Regions from separate parts of the Homo sapiens genome. Here region 1 is linked to region 2. Evidence: fine-mapped expression QTL. A gene starts in region 2. The other region holds a variant in brackets. All regions are shown on one strand. Distances are from middle to middle. Region 1 overlaps P3R3URF-PIK3R3 (P3R3URF-PIK3R3 readthrough). Region 2 holds the start of CCDC17 (coiled-coil domain containing 17).

Region 1 (5,000 bases), 520 kb after region 2:
CAGAAGAAACCAACCCTGCCAACACCTTGTTTTGGACTTCTGGCCTCCAAAATTGTGAGAGAATAAACTTGTGGTTTTTTTTGTTCTTTGTTTTTTGTTTTTTTGTTTTTTGTTTTTTTGTTTTTTTGTTTTTGAGACAGAGTCTTGCTTTGTCACTCAGGCTGGAATGCAGTGGCATGTTCACAGCTTACTGGAGCCTTGAACTCCCAGGCTCAAACAGTCCTCCCACCTCAGCCTCCTGAGTAACTGGGATCACAGGTGTGCACCACCACACCTGGCTAATTTTTTTTTCTTTTTGTAGAGACGAGGTCTCACTGTTTCCCAGGCTGGTCTTGAACTCCTGTGCTCAAGGGGTCGTCCCACCTTGGCCTCCCAAGGTGCTGGGATTACAGGCGTGAGCCACTGCACCTGGCCGATTTCTGTTGTTTTAAGCTACCCAGTTTGTGGTAATTCATTATGGCAGCCCTAGGAAATGATACAACCACCATAATTTAATTTTTTTCAAGCACATTTTATTTTACTTTATTTTATTTATTTATTTTTGAGACAGAGTCTCACTCTGTCACCCAGGCTGGAGTACAGTGGCATGATCTCAGCTCACTGCAACCTTCCGCCTCCCGGGTTCAAGCAATTCATTGCCTCAGCCTCCCGAGTAGCTGGGATTACAGGCGCCCACCACCACGCCCAGCTAATTTTTGTATTTTTAGTAGAGATGGGGTTTCACCATCTTGGCCAGGCTGGTCTTGAACTCCTGACCTCAGGGGATCCACCTGCCTCGGCCTCCCAAAGTGCTGGGATTACAGGCGTGAGCCACCGCGTCCAGCCTTCAAACACATTTTGAAATCAATATGTAGAGATCATATAATTTTAGAATAAAGGATCATCTTTCCCAATGAATGACTGTAAGTCACATTAAATATAGTGCTCAAACCTATAAAACTTTGTCATAGACTAGCTCTAGTCCTAGAAACCAGAAACCTAATCCCAACGTGAATCTTAACCATTTTCTCCCAGTGTCATCAAATGTCTCTCTCCTGTCTTTCCAAAAGAGTCAGCCAGCCAAAGCCAAATCCCAGGCCAAAACAACAGTCTACTTCTGCTCTTATGCCCAGGTAGTTGGGCTTAGGTAAAGAAAACCAAGTTTACCAACTTAGCTCTGGGCTGGTCTCTGGTCATAATTGGGATTCCTTTGGCTCATTCTGTATCTGCTTATTCTGATACTCCAAACCTTCACTACTCATCTCAAGTGACTACCTTCCACTGTCAGATCAGTAAATGTGACCTCTCCTTTTACTTGACAGAAATCAACAGGCATAATACTCCCTTCCTGTATTCATCCCTTCAAAAGCCTGTAAACCTGTACCCATTCTTGCTTCCTTGCCTTCCTTTCTGAAGAAGCATGTCTTTCCTGGAGTTGAAAGCTAATCACTAGATTTGACCTCTGGATGGCACCCTCTTCAGCCTCCTAAAACCAGTCCTACCCCCTCTCCTGTCTATCCAAATGCCTACTGGATGCCACACAAATGTTTCAAAATCATCATATCTGAGCTAGTTCCTTTTCTAGTTAGGTGACAGGGCCAGATGAAAATATAGGCCAGACAGGAAGAAAACATGTACAAAACCCCAGAGGAGAGCACATCGCTCTTTGAGGACATTGAAATTAATTACAGAGGCCGGGCGCGGTGGCTCACGCCTGTAATCCCAGCACTTTGGGAGGCCAAGGCAGGTGGATCACGAGGTCAGGAGATCGAGACCATCCTGGCTAACACGGTGAAACCCCGTCTCTACTAAAAATGCAAAAAATTAGCCAAGCGTGGTGGCGGGCGCCTGTAGTCCCAGCTACTCGGGAGGCTGAGGCAGGAGAATGGTGTGAACCCGGGAGGCGGAGCTTGCAGTGAGCCAAGATCACGCCACTGCACTCCAGCCTGGGCGACACAGCAAGACTCCGTCTCAAAATAAAAAAAAAAAGAAAAGAAAAAAAAAGAAAGTAATTGCAGGCTGGCCTAATGTTAAAGGAGGTAAAGGGTGGTGGGGATGAAGCTACAGGGTAGGCATGAAGAGGCTTATAAGTCAAGATAGGAATGTGTACTTTATGCTCAAGCAATGGGGGGAGTTTAGGAGTTTTAAGCAGAGGAGTGTTGTGATGAGATTTGCATTTGAGAATCATCAGATTGCAAAATGGATTGAAGGGGCAAACTTTGAAGACTTGGAAAACATTGTTGCAACAACGTGGGCAAACGATCAAGAGTCCTGTGTAGATTTGTGTAGATGTGAGAGATGCTTAGGAGGTAGACAAGGCCACACTAAATGAGTGATTAGGTAACCAGCATGTCTCCACCCTAAAGAATGGGCCACTCAATAATGAAATTACAGCCTTTCTTGTGGAGAATCTCTCCCTTCATTGGTAGTATTTTTCTCCTTCGCTTCTGCGTGTGATTCATTCATTTCCAGGACCTCACTGGGTAGATCAGCTAGCTCCAAGATCACTGCTAATGGGTTAAGGCCTAAAGGTGTGAGTGGATCAATGACCCAGGCTGGTCAGTCAATTGCTCCATTGTAGTAGATACCTTTTTTGTGTTTATTTTTTTAATTGATACAGAATACTTTACATATTTATGGGTTACATGTGATTTTTTTTAGTATATACAATGTGAGATGATCAAGTCAGGGTATTTGGTGTATCCATTA[G/C]GTTTGAGTGTTTTGTTTTGTGTTTTTTGAGACAGGGTCTCACTGTGTCGCCCAGGCTGGAGTGCAGTGGTGTAATCACAGCTCACTGCAGCCTCGACCTTGACTTCATAAGCTCAAGTGATCCCCCCACCTCTGCCCTCCCCACCACCACCCCTGCTCTTCAGTGCCAGTAGCTGGGACTATAGCACATGCCACCATGCCCAGCTAACTAAGAAAAAAAATTTTTTTTTTTAGAGACAGGGTCTCACCATGTTGCCCAGGCCAGTATCAAATTTCTGGACTCAAGCAATCCTCCCACTTTGGCCTCCCAAAGTTCTGGGATTATGGATGTGAGCTGCTATGCCTGACCACCTTGAGTATTTATCATTTTTATGTGTTGGGAACATTTAAAGTCTTCTAGCTACTTTGAAATACATAATACTTGCATCTCTACTCTGCTGTTGAACATTAGAACTTACATTTTCTATCTCACTGTTAACCAACCTCCCTTCATCCCCCTCTCCCACCCACACACCCTTTCCCAGTCTCTGGTATCTATCATTGTAGTGGATACTTTTTAGTACCTCTGGCCAGTTCACCATGATGTCCCCCTTCTCAATTTGTACATGACTGTGTCCCTGGCCATAGCTGGTAGGGCCTAGGCTAAATTGATTAGAGTTTCTTTCATAAATATTTGGAAATAGTACCCAAAACAAGATCTAGGCTCTTCAGGGGTTTGGACCTATAACACGGAATCAATCTCTGGAGGTATTATGGCCATGTTCACCCTGAAGGCTGAGTTGCAAAGGAAGCCGGTCTTCAGAAAGCCAAGGAAGGATGAAAGAAATGCTCTGAAAGGAGCAGAGGTGAGGAATGGAAAGAATACGAGCAGTAATCAATTTCCTGAGTATAGAGCTTCTTAAGGCCCAGCTTGGTTCCTATACTAAGGTCAGGCCTACACCTAACATTTGCAGGGCCCAGGATGAGAATATAAATGGAGAGCCATATACCATATGTCAAAATACTTGAAAGTTACAAATCAGGCCAACCATTAAATAAAAAATACTCAATCCTCGGCCAGGTGCGGTGGCTCATGCCTGCAATCCCAGCACTTTGGGAGGCCGAGGCGGGCGAATCGCAAGGTCAAGAGATTGAGACCATCCTCGCCATCGTGGTGAAACCCTGTCTCTACTAAGAATACAAAAGTTAACTGGGCATGGTGGCACGCACCTGTAGTCCCAGCTACTTAGGAGGCTGAGGCAGGAGAATCACTTGAACCCGGGAGGTAGAGGTTGCAGTGAGCCAAGATCGTGCCACTGCACTCCAGCCTGATGACAGACCGAGACTCCATCTCAAAAAAAAAAAAAAAACGACTCAATTCTCCTATCTTGCCAAATATATCTTCATGCAAACTTAGAAGACTGGGTTGAGGCTGGGCACGGCGGCTCATGGCTGTAATCCCAGTACTTTGGAAGGCTGAGGCGGGTAGATCACCGAGGTCGGGAGTTTGAGACCAACTTGACCAACATGGAGAAACCCCATCTCTACTAAAAATACAAAATTAGCCAGGTGTGATGGCGCATGCCTGTAATACCAGCTACTCGGGAGGCTGAGGCAGGAGAATCGCTTGAACCCAGAAGGCGGAGGTTGTAGTGAGCTAAGATCGCGCCATTGCACTCCAGCCTGGGCAACAAGAATGAAACTCCACCTCAAAAAAAAAAAAAAAAAGAAGAAGACTGGGTTAAAATTTAGAATTCACAGATCCTTAGAGTTCTGACAAAACATGGGGGAGATGGGAGGGAGAGAACTGACCCCTTTTTCTTCCTACCCTTGGCTCTATCCTGCACTGTGAGACTGTCAAGGGAGTCTTTGTATACATGTCCAAGCTGCTTCCATCCATCCCTGTCTTAGTCCATTTTGTGTTGCTATAACAGAATACCTGAGGCTGGATAACTTTTTAAAAAAAAAAAAAAGATATTTATTTTGACTCATGATTCTGTTGGCTGGAAGAGTCCAAAATTGGGCAGCCACATCTGGTGAGAGCCTCATGCTGCTTCCATTCATGGTGCAGAGTGGAAGGGGAGCTGGCATGTGCAGAGATCACATGGTGAGAGAGGACACAAGAGAAAGCAACCAAGGAAACAAGGCTCTTTTAACTCATCTATTCCCATGAATTCAAGACCTCACTCACCCCTATAGGAAGGCATTAATATATTTGTGACCCATCCTCCTCCATGACCCAAACACCTCCCACTAGTCCCTACCTCCCAACACTGCCACGTTGGGGATCAATTTTCAACATGAGTTTTGATGGGAATAAACCACATACAAAC
Region 2 (5,518 bases):
TGGGGAACACAAGTCTTAGCACAGAAATACCCAACTCCTTTCAACCTCCCTCCTCTCAGGCAGGTCCCTAACCCTATCTGGTCCTAGTGGGCTCCCTTAACCAGCAGTGCTGGCCAAGTCACAGAGGCTGTCGAAGGTGGCACGGGCCTCACCCAGGATCATAGGGTGCAGGGCCCAGCATGTCCGATGTGGGCAGGAGGAAGTGTGAGTCCAGGCCCAGGTTTCTGGTCATTGTTCCAGGAAGCTGTGGCTGTGGGGAAGAGAGCTGACTCCTCCAGAAAGCCTTGTAGCTGCTCATGTTCCCCCAACTGCTCAGAGCAGAGCTGCCTCCAACCTGTTCCCCCAACCCACCCCGTGTCCTCACAGCCTTTGCCCCACCCAAGAACTGAACCTCCGAGAAGCCTGGAAGTGGTGGCAGCGGTGGTGCCACCGGTGGCGGGAGGAGTGGGGGATCTCTCCTCCCCTTCGGTTGTAGGCTGGCATCCCCCAGGAGTCGCAGATCCTGGGGCCCTAGGAGCAGAAGAGTTAGGGTGCCCCTAAGTTGGACAAAGCAGGTAATTAGCTGAGATACCCCTCCCCCAAGAGTTGGGCCCACAAATGGGTTGGCGGAGCCCTGTGGATACAGGGATACACACGTGCAGACATGAACTAGGGGAGTCACAAACACGGGTCTTGTTCCCCATGCACTGTCTGCCTGAGCCAGGCCTGCTGGGGAGAGATAAGTGGGATGGGATAGGGTTGGGGTGCTCACTGACCCAAGGGTGCCCGACCCCTCTGCATTTGCAAGGCCAAGATTTCTGCCTCCAAGCGCCGGTTTTCAGCCTCCACTACTGGAAGCTCCCCTGAGGTGGCACCTGCCCTTCCTGCGATGAACAAGTGTGACCTGTCACCTTTGACCTCTGGTGACTGGCCGCGTCCGGCTGTGAGCAGCTCTCCAGCGCTAAGGCTCTTCGGATAAGGCTGGACTTGTCAGCTCACATGCCATCCACAGCCACAGGCCCTCCCTCGAGTTCTTTTCTCCTCCCAGGACTGACCACCGCTGGCGAGAGGCCCTCCTGTTCACCTCTGCGGGTCTGCGACCGCTGCAGCTCCAGTGCAGACGCCTCCACCTGCAACTGCCATATCTGGCCCAGCACGCCGGGGTCCCGGCCCCCGTCTCGAATGTAGGCCTCCCGCAGCGCCCTAGGGAGTGGGGAACAGGAAGGCCGTCTTTCCAGAACTGCTCAGCGCTTCGCCCTATGCCCATCTCCGGCCCCGGCTCTCACCGGATTTCGGCAGCCAGAGTTCCCGGGTTGGCCTTTTGCACTGGAGAATAAAGTTCTGCCTCTCGCCGGGAGCTCAGCGGGTTCCTGGGGTGGCAGGCGACGCGCAGGGAGACGGTAACGCATCAGAGGCCCCGGGGCTGCAGCCAGCCCGCCCCTCCCACCCCGGAGCCGCATGTTCCGGGGATCCGCTTAGTCGGGTCTCACCCTGGCTCCGCCTGCAGCTCCTGAATGCGGGCCCCCAACACCTCTAGAGCTCCCCGCGTCCTCCCGGCCTCAGCTTGTAGTTCTCGAATCTCCTGCTCCAGGCCGAAGAGGCGGGACATCCCGCCCCGCGTACAGGCCACAACTTGGAGGCGTCGGCTCAGTTCTGAGGGAATGCGGGCCGAGTCAGAACCGGCCCGAGCAAGCTTAAGCCAAACGGCGAGGGCAGAGGAGGTCCTTGGTCCCCGTCCCCCATCTCCTTCACCCTCGCCGCGTAGCTGCAGGGCCCGGCTCTGCGCTTCCATCTCCGCCACGCGCCTCGCGCGAGTCCTGAACAGCGCCCGCAGCCGCTCGCTGGGGCTTCCCACCGCCTCGGACATGGGACTCTGAGGCCGCGCCTCGGAACGTGTCCAGGGCCCCGCGAACACCCTGGGGACCTCTGTTATCCAGGGCCGCATTTCCTGTAGGGATAGCCGCAGCCACTGCACCTGGAGGTAACAGCGATCCGCGATCTCTGCGTGGGCAGAATCTGTCCCAAGTATGATCTACAGGTTTGGGGAAGACGCTCAACGTTTTGAGCCCTGGGGGAAGGTAGGTAGCTCTACCTCCTCTGTTAACCTCTTTAGAGCAGATCTACTGGCCTGCTGGTCTGGGAGGCCCTGGGGTTCTTGTGGCACGCCCTGGTGTTCTTGTGGCACAACCTGGGGATAGGGTGTAGTAGGATGAGGAATCATAAAGGTCCTGGCTCCTTTGAATCCCCACCCATGGCCATGGAGGCCCTTACCGCGGCCCGCTGGGGTTCAGTGGCAACTGATGCCTGTGCTCCAAATGTCATCTCTTGGGTCGGGTGGCCAATGCAGAAGCGCTGAGTATGGGTGGCTAACAGAGCTGAGGAGCGGAAAACCATGTCACAGGTCCCACAGGGCAGGAGCGCAGGCTCCCCAGAGTGGGAGTCCATGGGATGGGACCCGTTTCCTGAAACCAGCCAAGACCTGCAGAAGGGATCAAGGGCAGGGGAAAGGCAGAGGAGGATGAAAGAGACATAAAGCCAGAGGCAGAGAGGAAAGGCCGTGTCTATTAGGTCTGTGAGATCTTCAAGTTTGTTTGGGGAGAGCCTTAGCTCCCTGGACAGCAACCACAGGGCTGGGCAGGTCAGGAGAATGGGTGGGGAAACCTCGGCCGTTTGGGAGGAGCCACTGGCTTGAAAAAGTGTTACAAAGTCTGAACGTGGGCAAGTCTCTAATTGTAGCTTGGTTTCCCTGACTATTAATAAAGAGGAAAAAGCAGCTGCCTCCTAGACTAGGCTGGGCCCTTATCACTTACTACATCATTGGTCATTTAATAGCCTCTAAAAGGCAAGTGTCATCTTTTTCATTGCTGTACTCCCAAGTGGATGTAACAGTTTGTACCATTCTCCAATCCAGAGAACTACCTGGCAAAGGAGGCACTCTGACCTTTCCAGCATTCTGCCTGGAAACCATGTCGCACCAGGGATAGCAGTCTCCCTAACTCCCATTCCCTGATTCCTCATTTTTCAGCTGTAGACGAAGATAATCAGCACAGCCCAAGAAATGAAAGCTGTGGGCGAACAGAATGAATCTATCAGATGAGGGAATCAAGTCCAGAAAAAAACCCCTTCTCTCTCCCAAGATTGGCCAGAAGCCAGAAAGACCCTGAACTGTTGGTGAAATTCTTCACTCCACTCCCACTCCCAAAATATATGGAGGAGCTCTGAGGTGACCGCATATTTCTTAAGAAACCCTCTTTACTTTTTTTTTTTTCTTTTTGAGATGGAGTCTCGCTGTCGCCCAGGCCGAAGTGCAGTGGCGCGATCTCAGCTCACTGCAATGAGCTCTGCCTCCTGGGTTCACGCCATTCTCCTGCCTCAGCCTCCCAAGTAGCTGAGACTACAGGTGCCCACCACCACGCTTGGCTCATTTTTTGTATTTTTTAGTAGAGACGGGGTTTCACCATGTTAGCCAGGATGGTCTTGATCTCCTGACCTCGTGATCTGCCCGCCTTGGCCTCCCAAAGTGCTGGGATTACAGGCGTAAGGCACTGCGCCCGGCCAAGAAACACCCTTTTCTCTTCTTTTTTTGAGACAGTCTCGCTCTGTTGCCCAGGCTACAGTGCAATGGCACGATCTCGGCTCACTGCAAGCTCTGCCTCCCAGGTTGACACCATTCTCCTGCCTCAGCCTCCCCAGTAGCTGGGACTACAGGCACCTGCCACCACACCCGGCTTTTTTTTTTTTTTTTTTTTAGACGGAGTCTCGCTCTTTCGCCCAGGCCGAAGTGCAGTGGCACTATCTGGGCTCACTGCAAGCTCCGCCTTCCGGGTTCAAGCCATTCTCCTGCCTCAGCCTCCCGAGTAGCTGAGACTACAGGTGCCCACCACTGTGCCCGGCTAATTTTTTTTGTATTTTTAGTAGAGATGGGGTTTCACCGTGTCAGCCAGGATGGTCTTGATCTCCTGACCTTGTGATCCGCCCGCCTCGGCGTGCCAAAGTGCTGAGATTACAGGCGTGAGCCACTGCGCCCAGCCTTATGCCTGGCTAATTTTTTGTATTTTTAGTAGAGACGGGGTTTCACAGTGTTAGCCAGGATGGTCTCGATCTCCTGACCTCGTGATTCCCCCGCCTCGGCCTCCCAAAGTGCTGGGATTACAGGTGTGAGCCACCATGCCTGGCCGAAACTCCCTTTTCTAAACAAGACAGGGACTTAAGACATTTCCCTACTCAGTACCTAAAGCCAAGGTATGACCCACCAGCAGCAAGTTACAAAGTGTTCAAAGTATGTCATCTCAGTTCAGCTTAATTCCAACTGACATAAAGAGTACATTTTTAGAAATATGTTCTCAGAAAACAAGTAAATGGCAAAGCCCAAATCAAAACCTCCTTTTCAACAACTAAGTTTGTCCCAATTTTCAATGGTTAAGACTTTTGACTGGTTGACTTTACAATGGTGCAACAGTGATAGGCATTCAGTAGAAATACTACTACCATTTTTTTTTTTTTTCCCTCAAGAGACAGCTTGTAGTTCTCTAATCTCCTGCTCTAGGCCGAAGAGGCGGGAGCAGGACTGTCATCCAGGCTGGATTGTAGTGGTGCCATCATGGCTCACTGTAGCCCTGAACTGCCTTGGAATCAAGCAATCCTCCTGCCTTAGCCTCCCAAGAAGCTGGGACTACAAGTGTGTGCTACCACGTGGACCTGTCTATTTTGTTTCTGTTTTTGAGACAGAGTCTTGCTCTGTTGCCCAGGCTGGAGTGCAATGGTGCAGTATGGGCTCACTGCAACCTCTGCCTCCTGGGCTCAAGCAATTCTCCTGCCTCAGCCTCCTAAATAGTTAGGATTACAGGTGCTTGCTGCCATGCCTGGTTGTTTTTTTTTTTTTTTTTTTTTGAGACAGAGTCTCACTCTTTCTCCCAGGCTGGAGTGCAGTGGCGCTATCTCAGCTCACTGCAAGCTCTGCCTCCTGGGTTCACGCCAATCTCCTGCCTCAGCCTCCCGAGTAGCTGGGACTACAGGCGCCCGCCACCATGCCTGGCTAATTTTTTGTATTTTCAGTGGAGATGGGGTTTCACCATGTTAGCCAGGCTGGTCTCGAACTCCTGACCTCAGGTGATTCACCCGCTTCAGCCTCCCAAAGTGCTGGGATTACAGGCGTGAGCCACGCCTGGCTGGACCTGACCATTTTAATGTTTTTGTTTTTTATAGAGACAGGTCACTGTGTTGCCCAGGCTGGTCTTGAACCCCTGTCCTTTTCTTACATCACTGTCTATTCTCTCCCCTACTGGGCTGGGCACTCCTTGCATCCTCAGAGCCTTGCATAATGCCTGGGACATACAACACGGGCTTAGAAAGTATTTGTTGAATGGGCCGGGTGCGGTGGCTCACGCCTGTAATCCCAGAACTTTGGGAGGCCGAGGTGGGTGGATCACAAGATCAGGAGATCGAGACCATCCTGGCAAACACGGTGAAACCCCATCTCTACTAAAAATACAAAAAATGAGCCAGGCGTGGTGGCAGGCGCCTGTAGTCCCAGCTACTC

Evidence for each region. PIP is the estimated chance that this variant, and not a neighbour inherited with it, causes the effect.
Region 1: its variant is fine-mapped to the expression of CCDC17 in whole blood (TOPMed, PIP above 0.99).

What each region holds. Positions count from the first base shown.
Region 1 is chr1:46,140,746-46,145,745 of GRCh38, forward strand. The region is part of intron 1 of P3R3URF-PIK3R3 (P3R3URF-PIK3R3 readthrough); the gene reads right to left. It also overlaps a transcript of PIK3R3 not described here. Among named protein-coding and RNA genes, the nearest start is that of PIK3R3, 11 kb to the left of the region's middle. The variant G/C (reference allele first, on the strand shown) is at 2,689.
Region 2 is chr1:45,621,486-45,627,003 of GRCh38, forward strand. CCDC17 (coiled-coil domain containing 17) reads right to left here and starts at 2,569. Exons shown (of 13, transcript NM_001114938.3): 1 at 2,251-2,569; 2 at 2,072-2,167; 3 at 1,732-1,954; 4 at 1,470-1,632; 5 at 1,266-1,349; 6 at 1,064-1,182; 7 at 756-863; 8 at 392-510; 9 at 153-250. The coding sequence starts at 2,424.